Regions from separate parts of the Homo sapiens genome. Here region 2 is linked to region 1. Evidence: fine-mapped expression QTL. A gene starts in region 1. The other region holds a variant in brackets. All regions are shown on one strand. Distances are between the middles of the regions.

Region 1 (10,001 bases):
CAAATTCTGATAAATTTACCCCTAGTATTTCGTGGTTTTTAAATTCTCTTTGTAAGTGGTACTGTTTTCATAATTTCAACTTCTAATTGATGGTTAGCACACAAATAGAATTGACCTTTTTTTGGCTTTGTACCCTGTGGCTTTGGTAAACTTACTTATTCGTTTTAGTACCAGTTTGTAGCTTAGAATTTTCTGCAGACAATAATGTTATCTTCTTGTTTTACTTTCTGACATGGAGTTTTGCTCTTGTTGCCCAGGCTGGAGTGCAATGGCATGATCTCGGCTCACTGCAAACTCTGCCTCGTGGGTTCAAGCGATTCTCCTGCCTGAGCCTCCTGAGTAGCTGGGATTACAGGTGCCCATCACCAAACCCAGCTAATTTTTGTATTTTTAGTAGAGACAGGGTTTCACCAGGTTGGCCAGGCTGGTCTCGAACTCCTGACCTCAGGTGATCTGCCCGCCTCAGCCTCCCAAAGTGCTGGGATTACAGACGTGAGCCACCGTGCCCGGCCATTAATGTTATCTTCTAATAAAGATCACCTAAAATTTCCTTTTTGGCTGGGCACGGTGGCTCACGCCTGTAATCCCAGCACTTTGGGAGGCCGAGGCGGGTGGATCATGAGGTCAGGAGATCGAGACCATCCTGGCTAACACGGTGAAACCCCGCCTCTACTAAAAATAAAAAAAAATTAGCCGGGCGTGGTGGCGGGCACCTGTAGTCCCAGCTACTTGGGAGGCTGAGGCAGGAGAATGACGTGAACCCGGGAGGCGGAGCTTGCAGTCAGCCGAGATCGGGCCATTGCACTCCAGCCTGGGCGACAGAGCAAGACTCCATCTCAAAAAAAAAAAAAAAATAATAATAATAATAAAAAATTTCCTTTTCAACTGGTACAAATTTTGTCTTCCTTGCCTCATTACTTCGGCATGTACTCTGGCACGACACTGAAATAAATGATGATGATGGACAACCTTGCCCCATCCCTGACCCAAGGAAAAGCTTTCAGTTTCTCACCACTAAGCCTGACATTAGCTGTGGGTTTTTGTAGTTTCCCTTTGTTGGGTTGGGAGTGCAGGAGCAGAATAGATTCGAATCTTCTCCTCCTGGTTTACTGAGAGCCTTTGTCGTGAATGAGTGCTGAATTTTGTTGAATGCTTTCCTTGCATCTGTGGAAATGACCGTGTGGTTTTTCTGTGTTGGTCTGCTAATAGTGAATGACAATTGATTTTGAAATGTTAAACTAACTTTGCATTCCCGGGTACGCTCCACAAGGTCATATGTGTTCTCTTTATATATTGCTGGAATTGATTTGATGTTTTGTTAAGGGATTTTTGTGTCTAGGCTCCTGAGTGGACTTTAATTTTCTTGTCATGTCCTTGCATGGTTTTGGCACCAGGGTGATGACAGTTTCACAGAGGAGCTGGGACATGGCCCGTCTTCCTCTGTGTCCTGGAAGTGTCTGTGTAGCGGGGTGCTTTTCCTCCATTAGTGTTTGGTGGGCTCCACTGGTGAGTCTTGGCCTGGACGTCTTTGTGAGACTGGGCCCTTTCCTAACTCCGGCAACAGACCTTCGTGCTCGAGAGCCCTGGCTCCTTTGGGGCTCCTGCTCCCACCTTACACGCGACAGAGGGGGACCGAGGGCTGTGGCATCACAGTCGTGGGCATCTACTGGCTGGCCACACCCTGGTACACCCTCTCCTGGGGCACCCCAGTACCAGGCCCGCTGGAAGGAAGGGCAGTCATCCTGTTGATCCCCACAAAGATGGCAGCAGGGAGGGCGCGGCGTGCTATGGAGAAGGCGTTGAGTCTGGGGTTTTGTGCAGCACCTTCAAGAGGGGACAGCAGGGCCAAGGGAGGCTGGGAGGGCGATTTGAGGATAGGCACTCAAGAGGCTGAAGGCTGACTAGCCTCTTGCGCCCGGAGGACAGGCAGGGAGCCAGAAGAGAGGCCCCAGACTGAGCCCCAGAGGCCACCAATGGCATAGGCTGCTCAGACACAGACAGGGAAGAAAAGGCCTCAGGGCTGCAGTGAGGGTTGGGAGAGGGATGCAGGCTGGCAAGGAGGTGGGAAGGAAGAAAGCAAGAATTTTGGCCACTGGAGTAGCCGGATGCAAACGGTCAATAGGGCAAAATGCTGCTGAGGATGTCACAAAGGTGCGTCTGACTCTGCTGCAGCCTGGGAGGCCAGGTGACCATGGCAGCAGAGAGAGGGCATCTCAGGTCAAGTGCCCCTGCCCTCTGGCTGTGGCCTGACGCCCTCTCCTGGTCTCCTGCACACCCTCGGCCTCTGTTGGCACCTGGACCAGACCACTCCCAGTCAGCCTCCAGCCAGACCTCACTGCTTGACAGTTTCTCCAGCTGGAGGTCCCAGTCTACATTCAGCTAAAAATGTCTGCTGTCCCCACTCACAGCAGCAGCAGCGGGGGAAAGGGGAGTGCCCTCTGCCTCTGTCCCATGCTCTCAGCCCCCCTCCCCTGCCCCCACTGGTGGGGCCCTGATTGCTCATGCTCAGAGGCCCCAGAATTGGGTAGGGAGGACCCTTAGTCCACAGCATTTGAAGGGAAGCAGGGCGGGCGGGTGCAGGCCGAGAGTGGACAGGTGCTTTGGGGCCCACTCCCCTCCCCAGCTGGAAATACAGACAGCCCAAAGAGCAGGAGGGCGCACTGGGAAGACCCCGCAGTTTCCTGAGCTCATACGGGCTTACCAGCGTGGGGAGCGGACCACGGTCAGCAGCAGTGTGTGGCAGAGCCCGCAGGGGAAACGTTGCCCGCAGACCATACACGGGCAAGATCTGGGACCCCCACTTCTGCAGCGTTCCGGGTCTCCCTCACCTCTCCCCTCCCACCACCTTCTGCAGCACGGGCTTAAGGAAATACCAGTGTTTTTCTGCAAAGAAACAGAGGGTCCGTCCAGGTCTGGCTGCCTCTTCGGCTGCCTGTGTTTAGACCTCCAAAGGCTGCTCCCGGCAACCCCTGCCCAGCTGCTCAACCTGAAAGAGGGGTCGGTAGCAAGGGCCGGGAGGCGCCAGGGCGCTGCGGCCGGATCCCAGGTGAGTTCCTTGACTCCGCGCCGCGCAGGTCACTGTGGCATAACTGGGAAAACCGCCGCTTCTCCCTCGGGAGCGGAGGCGGAGGGCCACGTCCTCCCTGGGGGTGCACAATCTCTGCTTGGACAACGCCCGCGTGCAGTAGCCCCACAGACTCCCATGCAGCCCCCCCGCCACGTGTGCCGCATCCGCGCCCTGCATGCAACACCCGCCCCCTCCAGCGCAGCATGCCCCTCGCTGGCGTGCAGCACCCCCCATGTGTGCAGCACCCCTGCCCCGAATACAGCACCTCTCCCCAGTACAGCACTCCCGCCCCGCATGCAACACTCGCCCCCCTCCAGGGCAGCATCCCCATCCCCCGCGCGTGCAGCACCCCCTCGAGGGGCGGGAAACTCTTTGGGACACCCGGGGTCACGCCCTGCAGGGTAAAACCCCCGTCCAGGGCAGCCATCTGCACCCCCTCGCCATGGGCCCACTGCCTGCTCCGTCCCGGGATGCGCCTTAATGGCGGGTCGGGCGGCAGCGGGAGCTCTGCTGCCTGGTGGGACCGGACGTGGCAGCCGGCGGGCTGGAGGCTCCCAGGTCCCGGCCTCGCCCTGGCCTCGCCTCGCCCCCTAGAGTCTCCCCGAGCGCTCGTAGCGGCGGGGCGGGGTGGGGAGGCGCTGATTGGCCGGCGCGGGCACCGCTTGCCGCCGCCACGGCATCCCGCTGCGTTCGTACAGGCTCGTGTCGACTCGGCTCCGTTGCGCGGCCCGGCTCGGCTCCCCTCAGCTGCGCTCGACTCCGCTGTTCGGCTCGGCTGTTCGGCTTGGCTACAGGGCTCGGCTGTTCGGCTTGGCTACATGGCTCGGCTGCGCGGCTCGGCTCTGTTCGGCTCGGCTCGGCTGCTGGGCTCGGCTGTTCGGCTCAGCTGCGCGGCTCGGCTCGTCTCGGCTCTGTTCGGCTCGGCTCGGCTGCTGGGCTCGGCTGTTCGGCTCAGCTGCACGGCTCGGCTCGGCTCGGCTCGGCTCGGCTGCGCGGCCGCTGACGGGCGTGCGCTGGGGGCGCGGGGCGCGGGGCGCGGGCCTCGGCGGCGGCGGCGGCGGCGGCGGCGGAAGCCAGGTGCCCCCGCCCGCCCTGTCCTCTCGACGAGGCGGAGGCGTCGCCGCGGGCCAGGCCTCGGACTGCCGCGTCGGAGTGGACGCGGGGGGCGGCGGCGCGGGCGGACGCGGGCGGCGCGAAGCAGCGGGGCCCGCGGGGGCGCCCCGGCCGGGTCGGCGCGGACGGCACTCGGCGGACGCGGGCGGACGCTGGGCGGCCCCTCCCTGCCCGCGCGCCCGGGCGCCCCTGGCCGGCGCCGGGCCCCAGAGCGATGACATCGACGGGGAAGGACGGCGGCGCGCAGCACGCGCAGTATGTTGGGCCCTACCGGCTGGAGAAGACGCTGGGCAAGGGGCAGACAGGTGCGTGCGGCCGGGGCGGGGACCGGGGCCGGGGAGGCCGCGCTGGCAGCGCGCTGGGTGGGGGGCGCCCGAGGGAGGCCCCGGCCGCGAAGCCGCAGGCCCGGCCCGGGCCCCGGCCGCGAACAATGGGCGGCCCGTGCGCCCCCGTCCGCTCGTGCGCCCCGGTTCCGCCGCGGATCCCGCAGGCCGCTTGGCTGCGGTCGGCCGGGCGCGGCCCAAGGACACGCGGCGCGGCGCGGGGCGCGCAGGCGGACAGGGGCGCACGGGACGGCGCCCCTCGGGCCCCGCTGCAGGTGCGCGGCCCGGGCCGCATTGTGCGCCCCAGCGACCGGGCCCATTGTGCCGCGGGAGGAGGGGGCCGCGCGGGCGCCCATCTGCCGTCTGCCGCGGCCGCGCTAATAGGCGTGCTGCCCGAGCAGCTGCGCCCCCGGCGGGACTCCCACCTCCGCGCGCCGGCCACCGGGGCCTCCGGGCAGGCCCGATCTCCCTCCGCGGTGGGGGCGGGAGAGTGCGGGGACCTGCAGAGGGCTGGACAGCGCCTTGCGCTGCTCCGGCTCGGGCTCGGGCGGGCGGAGCGTCTGTGACCTGCATTCCCACGGGGCAGGGAGAGGCCATTGGTGCTGGGACCAGAAGTGCGTGGGACCTGACCCGTGGAGCAGCCCCGCGGCCTGCCGGTGGAGGGGGCTTCCCGGTGGGGCCTGGCTGTCATTCTAGGGAACAGGCCGGGTCCCTGCGGGGCCGAACCCAGGCCAGAGGCAACCCAGCTACCCTCGCATGTGGCCAACTCTCCCCGGCCCGCTGGGTTTGGCTAGCCCTTCATCTGGTCAGGCACATTCACAGAGTCGCCTTTGTGGAGGCTGGGGCTCAGCCATTTTCTTTCTTCTCTCAGGACCGGCCTGTCTCTTGGTGTCCCCGAGGTCCCACGGCACTGCCTCTCCCTTCCAATCCGAGAAGTTCCTTAGACCCGGGCGGGCAGGGGTGGAGGGAAGGAGGAGGAGAGCGCTGGTGCAGGGTGGAGGCTCAGCCCCTCACGGCTGCACAGAGGAGGAGCTGGGAGGTGGCGTTGGGGAAAGAAAGTGGGCCAGGCCCAGGCTCTTGGGGGAGGGCCGTGGCTGTGATGTAACTACGGCAGAGCTGCAGGAAGGGGTTTAGACTGAGGGGTTCAGGGGAGCTGCCTCACCTTGGGTGCACAGCCTTCCGCCACCCGCCACGGCACGGAAGGGCCCCTGGCCACAGGGCAGGACCTGGGCAGGTGGGGTGGTGCAGCCTGGGTTGGAGAAGGAGGTGGCATTCAGCCCATGTCACCTGAGTTCAAAATTCTCGTCTTTCCCGGAAAGAAAAACTAGTGTGTGAAATCCGTGGTGAAGGAGGGGCCCAGGGCAGCAGGATGCAGGAGTCAGTGAGATAATCCAATTACGGTCCCAATAAAATGTTATTATAAGGAAACATCTGCGTGTAAATGAAGACACGATGAGTTATGTGCTGTGCGCGGCCTCGGTGGGTAGGGGCTGGTCTCCACTCTTCATGGCATTCTGCTGGCGGCAGTTAATTACGGGAGGTTTCCACTGTAATTAACAGTAATGAATACAAAAGGATGGGCTGTGTGTGTCTACAACGTGCTGAGAGAGATATTTAGAAAACAGCTCGAGGGGGGGCACAAAGCGGCCCCTCTCTCCCGAGTTATGACGGGCAGAGCGCAAGCGTGTCACCGGGAGGGCCCTGGAGAAGGCCACCATTTCTGTGCGTCTTCTGTTGCTGCTGCTGAAGGGTCACCAGGAGTTGGGTGGACATGGGGCCTGGAGTGTGTGTGCTGGGCCACTTGGCACCAGATGCCAGGAGAGCTGCCAGGTCCCAAGCTCAAGAGGGAGATAGGCTTCCTGCCAGGAGACCTCCGTGGGAGAACGGGAGGCTGGGCTTCTGGCCGCCACCACCCGAGGACGATCTGATCCTGCCGTTGAGAACGCTTCTCCTTCCAGGGACCTGGCCACAGGGGAGCTGTGGAGGCCTTGCTTGGGGGGCCATTGGTGTGGACGCGACTCCAGCCCCTTCCCCGTGTCTGTGGCTGGCAGCTTTGTTTGGCCCTCTCTGTTCATCTCTCTCAGCCTGAGACCTTGGAAGGAGGAGCTGCTCGACTTGAGGTGGCCACTGAGAGGGAGGTGGTCAGTGGCAGTGGCAGTGAGCCTTGTGGTGCCACGAGAGCCCTTCCACCCGGCTGACCCAAGCTGGGGCCTGCTGGACGGTGGGCCAAAGATGTGGTCCGAAACCTGCCCTTGGGGAGTCTGGCCGTGTGGGGAGGGGAGACCACGCAGCACCCCCACCGGGGCCTGGAGGACGCCCTTCTAGACGCCGCAGGGTCCGGTCGGCTGTCTTCTTCTGCCTTTCAGCGTGAGCGCTGCATGGTCTCACCTGTACGGCACCTCCCTGTCTTGTTGGGTCTGTGCGTCCTGCAGGGCCAGTGTGGCTGTAGGGTCGTCCTTCTGCATGGGGCGTCCTCTGCACAGCTCCCCTCGGTGGCTGTGGGGGTTGCCTTCAGTGGTCTCACTGCCGGTGCCAGGCACCAGGTGAAGCCGTCAGAGCACTGAGCATCTGTGGAAGCCTCCTCGCCGGCTGCTTGGTGGTTTCTGGCCAAGACTTAGGGGGATGTAGGCTGGGGTTGGGGTGGGAACCCACCTGCAAAGGTGCTGCCTTAGCTTTTCTTGGGGCTGAGAAAGGCTTGTGTAGCCTCATCTGAGCTTGACCCCTGCAGAGATGCCGAGACACAGTCCCTGCCAGCAAGGGCAACCATGGAGGTTGGAGGGCGCAGACACTCCGAGTTGGAGCATGCAGGTCCAGGAGGGTGTGTGGCACGGGCTGGGTGGCTTTTGTCCCTGCGCGCCTTTGTCCCTGTGCCCCATCAGTACGTGGAGCAGGGCACCTTCTTGCCCAAACCTCGGCTTAGCTCCTGAAATCTGGGAGGCCTGGGAGGGCCCTGTGGGAGGAGCTGGAGAACCTCGGGCCCTTGGAGCTGTTCTTGGGGGCAGGCGGGTGGGCTGCATGGGACGATGAGGGGCCTGCCTTCGGGAATCCTCTGTCTGGGGGGCGGGAGAAAGGAATAATGGCCGCGATAGGGCTCCCTGCGAGGGAACGAAGGAGCTAGGATGAGGGGCTGCCCTGCAGCTCACCTGGCAGTGTTCACCTGCTGTGGCGTGGGGGAGGGACCTAGGCTGCCAGGGACCTGGGGCCGCCCCTCCATGTTCTCAATGGCCTTTAGGAAGGTTGAGCCCTGGTGGCTGCCAGGGTGGAGAGGGGTCCTGGGATGGGAGGAGTCATTGAAGATGGAACAGGTGAGGGGAGGGAGAGCCTGTGCCTGGGAGACCCTGGGGGTGACCCCAGGCCCAGAAGCTGGAGGCAGATGTGGAGGGGAAGGAAGCTGGTCTGAGATGGGGTCTGTTTAGAAAGTTGAGCAGGACGGGCAGCGATGGGCTGTGGTGTGCAGGTCCCTGGAGATGGGCCATGGAGATGGGTCCTGGAGATGGGTCCTGGAGATGGGCCCCTGGAGATGGGCCATGGAGATGGGTCCTGGAGATGGGTCCTGGAGATGGGTCCTGGAGATGGGTCCTGGAGATGGGCCATGGAGATGGGTCCCTGGAGATGGGCCCCTGGAGATGGGCCATGGAGATGGGTCCTGGAGATGGGTCCTGGAGATGGGTCCTGGAGATGGGCCATGGAGATGGGTCCCTGGAGATGGGCCATGGAGATGGGTCCTGGAGATGGGTCCTGGAGATGGGCCATGGAGATGGGCCATGGAGATGGGTCCTGGAGATGGGCCCCTGGAGATGGGCCATGGAGATGGGTCCTGGAGATGGGCCCCTGGAGATGGGCCATGGAGATGGGTCCTGGAGATGGGTCCTGGAGATGGGTCCTGGAGATGGGCCATGGAGATGGGCCCCTGGAGATGGGCCCCTGGAGATGGGCCATGGAGATGGGTCCTGGAGATGGGTCCTGGAGATGGGCCATGGAGATGGGCCATGGAGATGGGTCCTGGAGATGGGCCCCTGGAGATGGGCCATGGAGATGGGTCCTGGAGATGGGTCCTGGAGATGGGCCATGGAGATGGGTCCTGGAGATGGGCCATGGAGATGGGTCCTGGAGATGGGTCCTGGAGATGGGCCCCTGGAGATGGGCCATGGAGATGGGTCCTGGAGATGGGTCCTGGAGATGGGCCATGGAGATGGGTCCTGGAGATGGGCCATGGAGATGGGTCCTGGAGATGGGTCCTGGAGATGGGCCATGGAGATGGGTCCTGGAGATGGGCCCCTGGAGATGGGTCCTGGAGATGGGTCCTGGAGATGGGTCCCTGGAGATGGGCCATGGAGATGGGTCCTGGAGATGGGTCCTGGAGATGGGCCCCTGGAGATGGGCCATGGAGATGGGTCCTGGAGATGGGTCCTGGAGATGGGCCATGGAGATGGGTCCTGGAGATGGGTCCTGGAGATGGGCCCCTGGAGATGGGCCATGGAGATGGGTCCTGGAGATGGGTCCTGGAGATGGGCCATGGAGATGGGTCCTGGAGATGGGTCCTGGAGATGGGTCCTGGAGATGGGCCCCTGGAGATGGGCCATGGAGATGGGTCCTGGAGATGGGCCCCTGGAGATGGGCTGTGCAGGGCTGAGCCCGGAGAGCGCATGGGTAGACAGGACCCGGCAGCCTCCCCAGCCATGAAGGTGAAGGTGGACTCAGCGTGGGGTGTCTGCTGCGAGACCCCAGGAATTCTGTGGCCTTCCCCACATCAGGCCCTGGCCATCTGACCCCAGCTGTTTTGTCAGGGCAGCAGCAGCCTGGGGCTGGACTGAACCCCTCATCTGCCCTGCACGGGGTTTCTACAAGCTGAGGTCTCAGGACGCTGTTCTCAGGGGCGCCGTGCACAGAGCCCGGGGAGCCAGCATGGTGGGTAGCCCTCCCATCTGAAGTCTCCCTGGCCCCCTGAAGTCCCTGGAAAGGCCCATTTGGTGTCGCTGGGCGCCATGTCAGTGACTGCGCCAGGGTGGAGGCCTCAAGATGCTGCCCCTGGCGTCTTCCTGCCCTGCATGCCCTCCACAGGGAGCCCCCTTTCCAGCTGAGAGCTGGCCTTGAGTGTCCCTGTCAGGGCCCTTGGCACAGAGGTTCCGGGTGGTGAGGACGGCAGTTCCCCTAGGCGGGGGCGGGAGGGTCGTTGGAGGCGGGAGCCCTAGGCCCTTGTCCTGTCCCCACCCACTGTGGCCCTGGGCACCTCAGGTGTGTGTGTCCCTGTTGACGTGGGTCTCCCTGCCTTGTCACTGGCAATGGCTGGAAAAGACACGCTGGGCAGAGGGCACCGCCCGGCCCTGATCGTGCTGGCCGTGCTGGCCCTGCTCTGCTGAGGTGCGTGCACGCCGTGGATTTCCTGGATGTGGAAGCCTCAAGGCCAGGCTGTGCCCCCTCCCCCAGCTGTGCCAGGGAGGGCTTTCCAGAGTCACCGTGGCTGGCTGCTGCCCCGCCTGCTCCACCATCTGCCCGAG
Region 2 (10,001 bases), 63 kb after region 1:
GAGTTGGAGGGTCGTCACCGTGGGGACCAGCCCCCGGGTGTCCGGGAGCCAGGTGTGTGGCCAGCGTGGCACTCTCCACGGTCCGGGGCCTGGGCCGTGGTGTGGACTAGCGAGGCCCCTCGTGGCCGGCTGGCGGTGGGCAGGCCTGGTGGGTAGTGCAGGCCGGGCTTTTACTCTTCTCTGTCCTCTTCTCTTCGGCGGCTGCCTCGGCCCCTCCCTGCATTTCCTTCCTCCAAGGATGGCAGCTGCCACTGTCTGGGCACGTGGGCGCCGGCTCGTCCGTGCAGTGTGGTGGAACGACGCACAGCCGTCCTGGTCCCTGCACGGGGGTGGCGGCCACACACCGGAGTCTCAGCCGGGCACGCCGGGCCAGGGCCTCCCTCCTGCTGTGTGCAGGTCTCAGGCTGAGTAGGGCAGTGGTGGGACAAGGCCCCACCGTCCCTGCCAGCAGCTGCCCCAGCCTGGCCCTGCCCAGGCCCTCCTGGTTGTGGACAAGGGAAGGGCCGGCCGCTGACCCAGGCATCCCTCACGGGCATCTAGGGACATGGAGGACCAGGCTGCAGGCCCTGTGAGAGCTCAGCCAGGGGGGGCTTGGCAGGTGGGAGGCTGGAGCCAGCACGAGGCCTGGAGCAGAAGGGGCTGCATACAGGAAGCTCCCGTCTGTCCCCTCGTCCTTCCGTCCACCCCCACGCTGGATGGTCCTTTGCCGCGGCTGTCTGATGCCGTATCCTGTGCTGTGCCTGGGCTGCTGGCATGGGGTGGCCCCCACACGTGGGCTCTGATGGGGGCCCCAGTGGGGCTGGGCACAGCCAGGCGCCCTGGGCCCTCCTGAATTGACAGGGTGTGCAGCAGGACCCAGGGCCTCGAGGCTCTTGGCCCGGGCTCCAGGCCTCCTGGAGGGTTTACCTGGGGGGAGCAGAGCCCAGCACCTGCTGCTCCACTGCCCCCTGGCTGAGCAGTGGCCCTGTACCTTGTGACCTCCAGGTCTCGGTCCATCAGCGGTGCCTCCTCAGGCCTTTCCACCAGCCCACTCAGCAGCCCCCGGGTGAGTGACCCCCCGCCCCCACCCAGCTCGGATGCACAGAGGCCCCAACCCTCCCAGTCAGCGTGTGCCAGGGTGGGGGCAGCCTCGCGGACCCTGGGAAGCAGCCCCAGGCGCCCCCCATGCCCACGCTCCTGTGGCGGCTGCTGCTCTGTGGCGCAGGCTGCTCTGCTAACTGCACGCTCTTTTGTTTTGTTTTGTTTGTTTTCTTGTGTGTCACTTCTTTTCTTTTGTGGCTAATCCTCCTGCCCATGCCTGCCTGCCTCCCCACCCTCCCGCTCCCGCCTGTTTCTTTCTGGTCCTCCTGTGCCGTGTGCATGCGGGGGACTGGGGTGCATGTGCCGCGCGGCTGCCCCCACCCCGCTCGCTCCCTGCGCCTCCCCGTAGCCTATTAGGAAGCTTGTCCTGCCCCCACCGCCCCCCGAGCCGCCCTTCGTGGCCCGCCCCCTGGCCACCTCCACGGAGCCCGAAGCTTGTGGGAGCGCCTCGAGGCCTGGACACGTCCTCCCTCTGCAGGCCGCCCTGCGGCCCGACCCCAAGACCCAGACCTTGCCGTGCAAGGCCAAGCTGACCGACAAGCCTCTGCAGGGCACCAAGTCCAACCCCTTCCCGGCCAGCACCCCAGCCCGGCCTCCCGCCACTGGCCTTTGTCCCCAGCTGGCACCACCCCTGGGCCCGCCTGCCCTGCGGGTGCCCCCCCGGCCCCCACCCGCCGGGATTGAACCAAACACCAAATCTGTCCCCACCATACAGGTGACCCCTCACCCCTCACCAAGGGGCAGTCCCCTCCCCACCCCCAAGGGGACACCTGTCCACACGCCAAAGGAGAGCCCGGCTGGCACGCCCAACCCCACGCCCCCGTCCAGCCCCAGCGTCGGAGGGGTGCCCTGGAGGGCGCGGCTCAACTCCATCAAGAACAGCTTTCTGGGCTCACCCCGCTTCCACCGCCGGAAACTGCAAGGTGAGTGTCTGCCCGGAGGCGCCAGAGTGGGGCTGGGAGAGAGCAGAGGCTGCCTTGGGGAGGGCCCCGCCCGGCAGTGCCAGACCAGTCCGAGGGGCCTGTAGCTGCAGGGGTGGCCTGGGCCTGCCCACGTCTCACTGTCCCGAAAGCGCCCAGCAGCAGCCTGTGTCCTACCTGTCGCACAGGCTGGTATCCCCTCCAGACATTCTGTGTTCCTGAGTCTACCCACTCTGTGTCCTGGGGCCAGGCACACAGCAAGGAGAGCTGGCCACCGAGGGGGCACTGCCAGTCAGGAGGCCCCATGTGTGGGGCACCAAGGGCCAGCCAGTGCTGCTGGAGAAGGCACAGCCGACTTCAGCACCAGAGGCGGGGACAGCTCCCCTTAGCCTGGGGGGCGCCACTGCCAGTGGGCCTCTAAGGTGGCCGGGAGCTGGGGTGGACCAGTGCCCCTGGGGGGGCTGTCCCAGTGTGTGTGGGTGGACTCCTGATGACCCTGACCTCGGCGCAAGGTGGCCAGGGCAGGGGAAGGATGGAGCGGTCACCACGCCTTTCCTCCTGTTCATCCTGTGTGCACAGTTCCGACGCCGGAGGAGATGTCCAACCTGACACCAGAGTCGTCCCCAGAGTAAGTGGCCCCTGCTGGAGGCCTCCTGGTACCTGACACCAGGCTGGCCGGGAGAGGGGCATGGAACCCTTCCCCTATGGCCAACGGGGTGCTCCTTCTCCACGTGGCCCCACCTCCCACTGCAGGCAGGCCCGTCTCGGCCACTGAGTCTCTGAAGTTCGAATTCCCGGCTGTGAGGGGAAGGCCAGCCAGGGGAGGAGCCCCCAGCCCTGTTGAGAAGCTTCAGGCCTTGGGAGAGCCTAGGGTTGGCTGGAGGCGAGCAGGGGGTACACTGGGCAGAGTCTCCCCAGGGCCTGAGCTCGCCAAGGGCAGAGACCGGGTCGCTCAGGTCTCAAGGAGAAAGCAGCCCGTGTTAAGAACAAAGGGGCAGCAGGCCTGGTGGGAACACGTGTGCAGGGGCGGAGCGGAGCAGCCAAGCCGAGGTCTGGCCCCGCCGCCTTTCTGAGCCGTGAGAGGTGCCACTGCAGAGACTCTACAGCGCCCAGGTGCTGAGATGCCCTGGGGGCCGCTGTGACTGGTGTCTGGACAAAGATGTCCCCAGAGAGACCCCTTCCCAGCGCCCAGGCCCTCTCCCTCCTCTCCACGATGGCCTCAGTCACTGGGCAGTGTCTCGGAGACCAGGCGACTGGCGGTGTACACATATGAGCCTGCAGCGTGACCCCAGGCCAGGCAGCGGCAGAGAGCGGCGGTCAGGCTGGAGTCACTTCACAGGAGACCCCGGGAAATGAAGATGTGGCCAGCTGTGGACTGAGTAAGACGAGAACCTTCGTCCTGCTGCTGGCTTTAAACCAGGGGCCCCTGTGGAAACTGCTCAGTGCTAAGCCCCAGGAGCAGCATCTGCAGCCTGTGCCAGGATTCCACCCAGTGGCCTTTCTGCGCCGATCAGGTGGCCCTTCCAGCTGGGTGCCCAGGTCGGAGGTGTGTAGGTATTGTCGCAAGCCCAGATGCACAGGGCTCAGCAGACTTGGGAACCTTCCGCCTAGGCCCTGACATTGCCGTTTCTGCTGCTACCAAAAGCTTTCATGAACAGACTCATAATTATCTTCCTCAGAGAAGGTGGAAAACATCAAAGCCGAGAAGGTGGCTTTGATGCCACTGTGGCTGCCTGCGCTTCTCCCCTCCCCCATCTTGAGATGGCCTGGAGGCCCTGACCCCTCTCAAGGGTCCGGCACGGATGCCTCCCACAGCCCCACCCAAGGGCCCGGCACAGACACCCCTTCCCAAGGGTCCAGCACAGATGCCTCCTACAGCTCCACCCAAGGGCCCGGCACAGATGCCTGCGACAGCCGTTCCCGAGGGTCCAGCACAGACACCTCCCACAGCCCCACCCAAGGGCCCGGCACAGATGCCTGTGACAGCCCTTATTGAGGGTCCTGCACAGACGCCTTGGACGAGGGTCCAGCACGGATGCCTCCCACAGTCCCTCTTTGGCGACAACTCGCTTGCTGGGGACCTGAGATAACCCCCAGCCCCAGCTGCTGCCAGCCCCATGTCAACCAGGCACCCCAGAGGAACAGCACCAAGGGAGGCAGCTGGCTTCAGGAAGGGATGCATGCGGTTGTCTGGGACACTCAGGGCTGATGTCCTTGAGTCTGAAGTGCTAGCTGGAAGCCCAGGCAGTTTCCAGGTTGCAGCCTCGAGGGGCGTTCTTTCCCCAGGAAGACCGAACCTGGCGGATGCACCCACCCTGTGAGGAAGGGTCCCCCGCCAGACTCAACAGGCGACTGATTTAAGTTCGTCTCATCTAAAAATAGCTTCATAGCAACACCCAGACTAGTGTCCGGCCAGGCTGTGCACTGCCCACCACGTGGGTGCTGGAGTCACAGTGCAGGCCCCTCACCCCTCGTCGGCCTGGCCTCCCTGGGCCGTCAGGCATCTTTCACACATGGGACTATTTTTGCCAAATGCTGCACCCCTGGGCCGCAAAGCAGAGAGTCACGTTTGTACCATCTGTCCTGTCTCTTCATCGGGCAGAACATCGACCATGTAGAAACTCACCTGTGCTTCCAGAACTGCCAGGCTGCTTTGTGCACTTCCTGGCTCCAGGCCCTGGCATGGGGCTGGGGTAAGGTCAGGGCCAGTGGTGGCCCTCGGAGTTTTGAACCCAGAACAGACAGCCGCCGAGACCGGCAGGACACTGAGGAGGCGTCGAGGGGCTGAGTGAGGGTTGGACCTGGTCCCCGTGCTTGTCCGGCAGGACTCCCAGGCCGCACAGTGGCCGAGGAGGCAGCTCCAGGAATGGGCAAGGGAAAGGGGAGTTGTGAGGCCGCTGGGAGGGGCCTCAGAATCAGTCGGGAGAGGGCACCACTGAGCCCCAGCCCTGCTGGCCCCTCCTCCCGGTCCCTGCCTCTGCCTCTCAGCACACCTGGTTCCACCTCCAGGCAGCAACGGCAGGGGACGCCAGCAGAGCGTGCCACCTCTGAACAGCCACCCAGGCGCGCTCTGCCTGAGTCTCGGGCTGTGCTAGAGGCGCCTCTGGCCATGGTCCTCTCACGGCTGGGCTTCCTGGCCCCCGCGCTGGTGGGTGGGGTTCGGGTGCTCTTGAGCTGGAGAGCAGAGGGCCTCTGCATGTTGGGGTGAGCCTGCCAGCAAGACAGGAGTAGCCTTCTGTGGCCTCAGAAGCGCCTCCCCACTCTCCTGTTGGAAGCGAGTTGCAGGCCCCGCCTGCTCCTGGGGGTGGGGGGCACAGCTGACTTCAGGAGCCCAGCTTGAGCCACCTCTCACAGCGGCCTTGGTGAGGGGGGGCTCACCTGTGGGGGGCTCACCTGTGGAGGGGCATCCCCAGACTTGGGAGTGGGTGGCATATGGGCCAGGGTCAGGGCGTTAGGGCTTGGAGAAAGGTTAGGGTTGGGGTTGGGGTTAGAGCCACGGTGATGGTCAGGGCATATGGGCTAGGGTTAGGGCGTTGGGGTCAGGGCCATGGGTTCTGGCTAGCACTGTGGAGACAGCCGTTTCTATCACGAAGCGATGGAAGATTCCGCCGTTCCAACCCCAGATTCGAGGGAGGCAGGGGTGTGGACGGTGCCACACCTCAATCCTCACAGCCTCTGTCTCCCACTGCCCAGGCTGGCGAAGAAGTCCTGGTTTGGGAACTTCATCAGCCTGGAGAAGGAGGAGCAGATCTTCGTGGTCATCAAAGACAAACCTCTGAGCTCCATCAAGGCTGACATCGTGCACGCCTTCCTGTCGGTGAGGCCACAGGGCGCTGGGGGAGGCGGGCAGCCCTCCCAACCCCACACGGCCCAGCCCCGAGAATCCAGCCTCCTCACGTAGACAGGACATGTCCACGCGCACAGCACGGACGTCCGCTCACCCGTGGGCCTGCCTGGCCGCCTTCACTGGACAGGCGCTCTCTCCTGCCCACCCTCGTGAGGGAGGGGTCACTGCCCATCTGGGGTGCTTGGCCTGCGGAGGGAGTCAGGGCTTTGCTCACTGGTCCCCAGCAGCCCTAGGTGTGTGCCGGACAGGCCTGGGCAGCTGGCACGTGGGGCAGAAGGAAGGCTCCAGCTGGGTGGGTCTCAGAGGGGGACATTTCCATCAGACTCGGGGAGAAGCCCTTGTGAGGCCATGGCCCTAGGGACC[G/A]GTGGGGCTCTGCTGGCCCTCAGTGGACAGCCCCAGCCCTCAGGTGTCTCAGTTTCCCTGGTCTCACCCTGCCCTCGGAGGCCGGGTGGCTCTCCACAGAGTGGTCGCGCTCGGGGTCTTGGGTGGGCTTCATTTGTCTTTGCTGGGCATCTTTGGGTTAGGAGGAGCAGAAAGGCCCTAAAAGCCTCAAATGGAGAAAGTTTATTGCCAGGACTCCAGCACCCAGTCCCATCAGGACGCCCCTTCCTTGCCGGCCCTGCCCCACCCTGTGCTGCACCCAGCGCCCAGGCATCACAGGGGCTGCCCCCCACCCGCCTCCCCCACCGCCCCCAGCCTGCCTCCCCAGGGCTGCTGTCCTGCCCTGTGCTCACCACTGCCCGGGCGCCCTCCCTGGCCCCAGGGTCTTGGCAAGATCAGGCCGTGGTTCGCTTCGGCAGCCTCTCTAGCTAGGGACTGGCCCCCACCCCACCATATGCTCTGCCCCCGGGCACTCAGGCCACTGCTGCCCTGGCTGCAGCTGAGCTTCCCTTACGCTGTGGGGACAGCTTGGAGCCCCTGCAGAAGGCTCCAGGGCCAGGAGAGCCCAGCGCTGGGCAGGGCAGGCCTCAGACTGCACTTGGACCCTGGCCTCAGGGGTCCTCAGCGTCCCCGTCCCCGTCCCCACAGGCTGCTCACTTCCTCGGCCTCCTCCCTCACCACATCCCTTCATGCTGCCCCTGGTTGCCACGGCTAACCTCAGACTCAGCCCCTCCCCATGCCGGCCCCAGTGAGGCGGCTGTGTGCCAGCCTGGGCCCTGTGCGCTGGGTGGCCCTGAGTTCTGCTTCCTGCAGCTGCCCCCTCGGTACTGTGAAGCCCACCCAGCCAGTGCCCAGCACCATAGGTCCCGCAACCAGTGGGAGTCCCAGGAAGCCCCAGCAGGAGGGCACAGCCCCAGCCCCGCCCTTGCACCTCCCTCTCAGTGGCAGCTCCCAGACCCCCCACCTCCCACTCAGCTCCACCCTGGACCCCCACCTCAGGCTGCAGGGGTCACCTTCCACCTCCATCTTTGCCCTTAAGGCTCCTCTGTAAGGTCCTGGTCATCCTGTGCTGTGGCTGCCTGAGAAAAGCCCGGCAGGGGCTTAGCTGTGCCCGCTAAGTGGACCAAAGCTTTGGAGGGTGGGGGCTGGAAACGCCCCTCCCCCTGCTCCAGCCGTCTCCAACCGCACTGTGCCCCTCACGGAAGCAGAGGTGCCTGGGTGCTCACAATGTGTGCACGGTGGGGCTGGCTCGCCCCAGGGCTGCCTCCCCAGAGGGCCAGGGTGGGACCTGCCAGGCCAGCCACGCTCACGCTGCTCTCTCTCCACAGATTCCCAGTCTCAGCCACAGCGTCATCTCCCAAACGAGCTTCCGGGCCGAGTACAAGGCCACGGGGGGGCCAGCCGTGTTCCAGAAGCCGGTCAAGTTCCAGGTTGATATCACCTACACGGAGGGTGGGGAGGCGCAGAAGGAGAACGGCATCTACTCCGTCACCTTCACCCTGCTCTCAGGTGAGCTGGCGCCCCCAGGGCGGCTCCGGGCCCAGGCCCGTCCAGGGCATAACCCCCTGTCTCCCCTAGGCCCCAGCCGTCGCTTCAAGAGGGTGGTGGAGACCATCCAGGCCCAGCTGCTGAGCACACACGACCCGCCTGCGGCCCAGCACTTGTCAGGTGAGGCGGGCTCAGCTCCGGCCAACCTGCGGCCTGCGAGTGGGGCGTGGCCAGCTGGTGCTGCGCGGACGGGAGGCGTGAGGACCCGGGCGCAGCCTCCTGGCCCCTCTTGACGGACGCCCCCACCTCCCTGCCCCGAGCTGTGGCTGCACCCCTCAGGGAGCAGAGCCCCTCCCTGGCCTGGCGGGACCACCCGCCTCGCCTCTGCACGCCAGGGACATAGGGCGCAGCCGCACCACACTGAAAGGCGCCTCTTGTCCACCGTAGAACCCCCCCCACCAGCGCCAGGACTAAGCTGGGGTGCTGGGCTTAAGGGCCAGAAGGTGGCCACCAGCTACGAGAGTAGCCTCTGACGCTGGCAGGTAAGGCGCCCGGCCTGTGCTGGGGCGGGGAGGGGCTGCGGGCAGGTCCTCGGCGGAGCCAGGCTGGCCCTGAGCAGGGCCCTCCATGCCCACCCACAGGTCTCGGCCCTGGACAGGCCAAGCATGCCCCGGGCGGCCCATCTGCTAGGGCAGCCTGCACAGGACCTGGGAGAGCAGTGACAAGGCCCTGCCCTCGGGACTCCCCGCCATGGCACCCTAGGAGGGCCGCGGGCTGCCTGACGGGCTGTGACTTCTCATCTCTCCATACTTCCTGACAGCCCAGGGTCATGCCTCCAGCAGGGCAGAGGGGCTTGAGCCCAGCCAGAGCGGGGGCTTCACCACAGCCTGATGGGCTCACACAGGGGAGGGTTGCCCCAGCCTGGAACCACCAGGGTCTAGGACCCGAGGGTCCGTGCCACTCGGCATACGGCAGGGAGGGCTCCCCCCACTCCCCTGGGCCCATGTGTGGTGGGGGCAGGGCGGAGCACTGGGCACATGCATGGGCCTGGTCTGTCAGCAAGGGGGTGTGGGTGTGCCTCTGAACGCTGGTACGGCGTGGGGGCGCTGGGCGTCGTGGGGGAGCACCCGGCTGGACCCTGGGGGTCCCCTCTCCCAGCCTGCATCTCAGCAGCTCCGTGGCATGCTAGGGTCACCTCCTGTGTTTCCATGTGGGGTCCTGGAAGCCAAAGAGGGCCCCACTGCCCCTCCCCATGACATCCTCATTCCATCATCATGCCATCACCTGTGGGAGCCCCCCCAGAGTGTGCTTCACCTTGCTGCGGGCTGGGGGCTGAGGTCCCCAACAGCCCTGGCCCTAACCGAAGCCCCAGTGGGTGGAGGAGTAGCCCCCTTCTCCTGATTTTGGGAGCCAGGCTGGCACAGCGGGTAAGGAGGAGCAGGGTTCCAGGTGCTCGGCCCCGCAGGTACACGTGGCGCTTCCCTACAGCGGAGGCCATGCCGTCGGCCGGCAGCAGCCTCTGGCTCTCTGAGCCTTGAAAGCCTTCATCTTAGGAAGGGAAACCGAGGCCAGGGAACGACAGGGCAGCCACCTAGGCCAGGGATGGACAGGGCTTGTCTGGTAGGGCAAGCAGAAACGGGCCCCGGGGTACTGCCCAGGGTGTCCCCGCACCTGAGCAGCCATCTGGGTGCCTCAGTCGAGCGCTCCTGCGTGGGCTGTAGGCAAAGCTCCCCCAGCCTGGCCCCTTAAAGTGTGGTACCGCCTGTCAGCACGCAGCACTCCCCTGGAGCCAACTCCAAGCCCCTCTCCATTCCTGCCCCGGACCCTGACCTCAGTGGAGCCCACTGCAGAGGCTCTTGGGGGTCTATTCTGGGCCCCATCTATCTCCCTGTGGACTTGGGGAGCCCAGCCTATCCCCGTGATCTCGCTACGCCCAGCCCTTCCCAGCCCTGCCCCCCTCCCACACTGGATGCTTTTGTCCAGTGAGCCCAGCTCCAAGGATGTGTGGAAGGTGGCTAGCCAGCAGGGGGCCTCCTCAGACACTGCCCACCCCCCCAGAGACTGCGGCCGAGGGAGGGGAGGCTGAGAGCCCCCAGTGAGCAGGCACAGGCAGACCAGGGCGTGTGTCCACCCTGTGCAGGCGCCAGTGAGGGCCTTGAGGGAGTAGCCCCTCCCAGGGCCTTGCTCCCACCCCAGTCCTGGACTGGCAGCACCAACATCCCCAGGCCCAGCAGTAGGGAAGAGGGCCGAGGAAGAGGGTGCCTGCCTTGAGTTGAAGGGCAGCC

Evidence for each region. PIP is the estimated chance that this variant, and not a neighbour inherited with it, causes the effect.
Region 2: its variant is fine-mapped to the expression of BRSK2 in lung (GTEx, PIP above 0.99).

Annotation. Positions count from the first base shown.
Region 1 is chr11:1,385,891-1,395,891 of GRCh38, forward strand. BRSK2 (BR serine/threonine kinase 2) reads left to right here and starts at 4,044. Exons shown (of 20, transcript NM_001256627.2): 1 at 4,044-4,485. The coding sequence starts at 4,395. RefSeq lists a silencer at 3,441-3,810.
Region 2 is chr11:1,448,792-1,458,792 of GRCh38, forward strand. It overlaps BRSK2 (BR serine/threonine kinase 2), which reads left to right. Exons shown (of 20, transcript NM_001256627.2): 13 at 985-1,045; 14 at 1,796-2,003; 15 at 2,580-2,628; 16 at 5,694-5,817; 17 at 7,557-7,737; 18 at 7,807-7,896. Among named protein-coding and RNA genes, the nearest start is that of MOB2, 33 kb to the right of the region's middle. RefSeq lists enhancers at 4,228-4,937, 9,189-9,751. The variant G/A (reference allele first, on the strand shown) is at 6,211.